Linked DNA regions of Homo sapiens: region 2 is linked to region 1. A link means that fine-mapping ties the variant in region 1 to the expression of a gene that starts in the linked region. Tissue or cell type: whole blood. Region 1 holds a variant in brackets; the other region holds the start of a gene. All regions are shown on one strand. Distances are from middle to middle.

What was found. PIP is the estimated chance that this variant, and not a neighbour inherited with it, causes the effect.
Region 2: it holds the start of KLF4, and the variant in region 1 is fine-mapped to the expression of KLF4 in whole blood (TOPMed, PIP 0.94).

What each region holds. Positions count from the first base shown.
Region 1 is chr9:107,509,922-107,512,679 of GRCh38, reverse strand. The region is part of intron 1 of LOC105376206 (a long non-coding RNA gene); the gene reads right to left. Among named protein-coding and RNA genes, the nearest start is that of KLF4, 22 kb to the right of the region's middle. The variant T/C (reference allele first, on the strand shown) is at 1,379.
Region 2 is chr9:107,488,249-107,491,006 of GRCh38, reverse strand. KLF4 (KLF transcription factor 4) reads left to right here and starts at 1,238. Exons shown (of 5, transcript NM_004235.6): 1 at 1,238-1,839; 2 at 1,957-2,077; 3 at 2,740-2,758. The coding sequence starts at 1,835. RefSeq lists silencers at 957-1,166, 1,526-1,725, 2,377-2,426.

The DNA of each region.
Region 1 (2,758 bases):
ACCCCTGACCTCAAGTGATCTGCCTGCCTCAGCCTCCCAAAGTGCTGGGATTACAGGCATGAGCCGCTGCACCCAGCCTTTTTTCCTTTTTTCTTTTTCTTTTCTTTCTTCTTCTTTTTTTTTTTTTTTTGAGAGGAGTTTCACTTTTGTTGCACAGGCTGAAGTACAATGTTGAGGTCTCAGCTCACTGCAACCTCTCCACTTCCCTGGTTCAAGTGATTCTCCTGCCTCAGCCTCCTAAGTAGCTGAGATTACAGGCATGCACCACCACGCCCAGCTAATTTTTTGTATTTCAGAGAGACGGGGTTTCACTGTGTTGGTCAGACTAGTCTCAAACTCCTGACCTCAGGTGTTCCGCCCACCTCAGCCTCCCAAAGTGCTGGGATAACAGGCATGTGCCAGCACCCCTGGCCTTTTATTTATTTATTTTTGAGACAATATCTCACTCTGTCACCCAGGTTGGAGTGCAGTGGTGTGATCACAGCTCACTGCAGTCTCGATCTCCCAAGGCTCGGGTGATCCTCCTCTCTCAATCCCCTTAGTAGCTGGAACTACAGGTGCATGCGACCATGTCCAGCTAATTTTTGTATATTTATTTATTTATTTTATTTTATTTTTGAGATGGAGTCTCACTCTATTGCCCAGGCTGGAGTGAGTGGCGCGATCTCGGCTCACTGCAACCTCTGCCTCCCAGGTTCAAGCGATTCTCCTGCCTTAGCCTCCTGAGTAGCTGATATTACAGGTGCACACCACCACACCCGGCTAATATTTGTATTTTTAGTAGAGACAAAGTTTCACCATGTTGGACAGGCTGGTCTCAAACTCCTGACCTCAAGTGATGTGCCTGCCTCAGTTTCCCAAAATAGTAGGATTACAGGCATGAGCCACTGTGCCTGGCAGCTATAAGCATCTTGATAGTACAGCTTATACCATTTATACTTATCTCTGGATCTCCCATCATACAGCAGAGTACCTTCTACATAACTGGCATTCTGAAAATATCTGTTAAATGGATGGGGAAAAAAGTCCACCCAAGTGAATGCACTCCATTAGAAGCCAAAGAGAGTCCCAGGCTTCAAATCAAATAATTCTAAATTCAAACCCATCTCTGGCTGGTCACACAGCACTAAGAGGGGCAGTCACTTGGATCTATCTGAGCCCCCTTTCTTTATCTGTAAAATAGGGCTTTATCTACTACTGTTTTAGAGTTGTTTCGAGGATTAATTCAGAGAAGACATGCTTAATATTGCAAATTACCTTCCTTTTAATTAAAAGCGTTCACAGCGAGGAAAAACAGGCAACTGACCACCACAAGCTGCACCGCTGGAGAGCATGGGAGGAGGTACACAGTGGGTTGTCATTAGTATGGACAATGCAT[T/C]TTTTTCAGCACTAAAGAAATTGGACAAAATAAGATGAAAAGAGAGTCTCAGCCCAAAGGCAGAAAGATACAATGGTCTTTATCTGCTAGTTATACAAACCAGCTGTTTAGATTGAAAAGATTTTGCTCAATCACTAAATATAATACATAAGTGATGGAAAAAAATAATGAATTTTTGTTTTTTACCATCTATATTGTCCTAGAGTTGTCGTAGAATTTTTTTTTCTTTTTTGAGATGGGGTCTCGCTATGTTGGTCTTGAACATGTGGTCCCAAGTGATTCTCCTGCCTTGCTCTCCCAAAATGCTGAGATTACAGGTGTGAACCACCATTCCCGGTATAATTTTTTTTTGATCAAGGAATACAAATACCACTGATGGGACTCAAGGTGATTTGATGTGGTACACAGGGAAATATTTATTATTTTAATTGTTATGCATTTATTATTTATGCTTTACAAAACATTGAGCTAGCATATCCAAACTGCAATATTACACATATTATTATTAAATATGCTTTAAAGTTTCAAAATATTTTTTAAATATGTGGATTTAAAGAAAAATATTATCATAATATGACTAATCAACACACCTGTGCCAAAAAACTGAACATAGTTCTAGGATCACGGAAGTGGTGGAAAAGACAGCTTTAACATGTGGGTCTTTTTTTTTTTTTTTTGAGACGGAGTCTCGCTCTGTCGCCCAGGCTGGAGTACAGTGGCGGGATCTCCGCTCACTGCAAGCTCCGCCTCCCGGGTTCACGCCATTCTCCTGCCTCAGTCTCCAGAGTAGCTGGGACTACAGGCGCCCGCCACCGTGCCCGGCTAATTTTTTGTATTTTTAGTAGAGACGGGGTTTCACCGTGCTAGCCAGGATGGTCTCGATCTCCTGACTTCGTGATCCACCCGCCTCGGCCTCCCAAAGTGCTGGGATTACAGGCGTGAGCCACCGCGCCCAGCCAACATGTGGGTCTTGAGCAACTATTTGATTTAAGAGAAGTTGTGACCCTGGGCCCCTCCATTTCTGTTTCCAAATGTCTTTTCAAAAGATTTACTTATTCTACCTACACACTCTATGCTGGCCCCCCCTGGATTTTATCCTGGTCCACCTGCATACCCTATACTCTCCCATCTCCGTGGCTTATTTGTGCTGAATTTTTTGCCTGGACACCCCTCCTCTTCCCTATCTGCCAGGCGCACCCCAAGCAGAACCAATCCCCTGTGCCCTCTGGGCTCCTAGGCGTCCTTGCACACCCCTCTTGCTAGTATCACCTTGGCACCTTGTATTACAGTTTCTTTCAGGGTGTGTCTCCTAGGCAATGTCTTGTTTATCTCTGTGCCCTGAGTTCCTAGCTGGGGGCGTTACATGATTTTAAAAAAATC
Region 2 (2,758 bases), 22 kb after region 1:
CTATTATTATTATTATTCTACAGTGCAATTTAGTCATCAAATATTACAGGCAGTGGCTCACGCCTGTAATCCCAGCACTTCGGGAGGCCGAGGCAGGCTGATCACTTGAGGTCAGGTGTTCGAGACCTGCCTGGCCAACATGGTGAAACCCCGTCTCCACGAAAAATACAAAAATTAGCCGGCGTCGTGGCGCACGCCTGTAATCCCCGCTACTCGGGAGGCTGACGCAGGAGAATCGCTTGGACGCAGGAGGCGGAGGTTGCACTGAGCTGAGATCGTGCCACTGCATTCCAGCTTGGGCGACACAGCGAGACTCTGTCTCACAAAAAAAAAAAAAAGAAAGAAAAAAAAAGGAAAGGGCTTCGAGATGGCTGGTTGAAAACTGTCTCCGCGCCTCACAGTCCCTCTTCTCTCCCTTATGCCTCTGAGTAAATCTTGAGCCCTTTCACTCCCTTTCTCGCTATTTAAAGTATCAAAACCATAACTCCCCATTCGTGCCTCTTTCCGCCTGTTCCCGGCGGAACACTCCTCTGGCCTTCTCTTGAGGCTCCCAGTTCACGCTGCACAGTGCTGGGCACTGCCTCCTCTCCACACCCCTAGCGCCCCCCACCCCTCAGCAGAAGGGCCCGCGAGGAACCGTGCGAGGTCAGGCCGAGCGCCGGCACCGCCACCGGCACTGGCGCTGAGCGACGAGAGCGGACTCCTGCGAGCGCAGAGAGGGAGGGGGAGATGGAGGGCTGGATGAGTCACGCGGATAATCGCGCTCTTCTCCAGCGCGCAGACAGCGCGGCAAGCGCGTATGCTAGCAGGGGTGCGGACGCGTGACCGTGCCGCCCGCTGACCCCACCAGTCTTCGCGGGCTTCGAACCCAGGGAGCCGACAATGGCGGTGAGTACGGCCCTGGTCGCGCAGCGACCGAACCTGCGCCCGGTTCCTCGCGCCCCGCGCTGGGGCGGACGCCGCCGCCGCCGCCGACACCACTGCCGCCGGCGTCAGCTCGGCTCCAGCCCGCCAGCTGCCTGGCTGGCGTCACGGCCCGGCCCAGCCCCGCCCGCGCCCCTCCTTCCCCTCCCCCGCCCCCACGTGCGCCGAGTTTGTTGATTTAGCTGCCATAGCAACGATGGAAGGGAGCCTCGGGGGGGGCGGAGAGAAGAAAGGGAGGGGCGGGGCATGGGAGAAGGCGGAGGAAAAGGCTGTAGCGAAGGAAGTTATAAGTAAGGAACGCGCGCCGGCGGCCGGCAGTTTCCCGACCAGAGAGAACGAACGTGTCTGCGGGCGCGCGGGGAGCAGAGGCGGTGGCGGGCGGCGGCGGCACCGGGAGCCGCCGAGTGACCCTCCCCCGCCCCTCTGGCCCCCCACCCTCCCACCCGCCCGTGGCCCGCGCCCATGGCCGCGCGCGCTCCACACAACTCACCGGAGTCCGCGCCTTGCGCCGCCGACCAGTTCGCAGCTCCGCGCCACGGCAGCCAGTCTCACCTGGCGGCACCGCCCGCCCACCGCCCCGGCCACAGCCCCTGCGCCCACGGCAGCACTCGAGGCGACCGCGACAGTGGTGGGGGACGCTGCTGAGTGGAAGAGAGCGCAGCCCGGCCACCGGACCTACTTACTCGCCTTGCTGATTGTCTATTTTTGCGTTTACAACTTTTCTAAGAACTTTTGTATACAAAGGAACTTTTTAAAAAAGACGCTTCCAAGTTATATTTAATCCAAAGAAGAAGGATCTCGGCCAATTTGGGGTTTTGGGTTTTGGCTTCGTTTCTTCTCTTCGTTGACTTTGGGGTTCAGGTGCCCCAGCTGCTTCGGGCTGCCGAGGACCTTCTGGGCCCCCACATTAATGAGGTAGGTGAGGCGCGCGGCGCTGGGAGCAGGGAGGGGTGAGGACCGGTGGGACGCGCCGGAACGACGGCCGAAAGCCGCCCCTGACTCTCCTGTCTCCGCTCCCTGCCTTGCTCGCAGGCAGCCACCTGGCGAGTCTGACATGGCTGTCAGCGACGCGCTGCTCCCATCTTTCTCCACGTTCGCGTCTGGCCCGGCGGGAAGGGAGAAGACACTGCGTCAAGCAGGTGCCCCGAATAACGTGAGTATCGCTCCGGGCCGCCGGGAACGCCCGGTGGGTTTTCGTGGGTGTGGTGGGGGCGGGCGGAGCCTTGGGGTCACCAAGAGCCACTGAACGAGGGTAAGGAGCGGCCACCGCGCGGACTCCGCAACCTTCCCGGGATAGCTTCCGTGTCCTTGGCTCAGCTGTGTATGCCCGTGGTGCGAGCACTGCGGAGCCGCCTGGGGCGCAAGCCGGGTCTTCACCAGTCCCCGGGCGCGCTGTCGGTAGGGCGGGCGCTCTCGGGCCACCGGGCGGGAGGTGGCCGCGTCCCCAGACACTGGCTGGGCCAGAGTGAGTTTAGCGCGTAGGCGGCCCCGTGGCGAGAGCGCACCGAGAGAGCCTCGGTGTGCCAATTCCGGGGACGTCCACGGGACCTGGAGGGGGAGGGACCAGCCGCGGCGCTCGCTCACACGCAATTGGGCAGACAGGACATAACACCCGCAATACAGACGCATCACCTCTTCTTCGACCCGGGAGTGGGCCGAGATTGCAGCGCTGGCGCCCTGGGTTCCCGGGTGCTTCCTGCCTGACCAGTCCCCATGTCTGGGCGGTGCAGTCGCGCGTGGCCCGCCAGCACGTCAGTATGTCGGGTGGCAACAGGGGACCACCACTGACAGGTCTCTCCCGCCCTGTCCCCGCAGCGCTGGCGGGAGGAGCTCT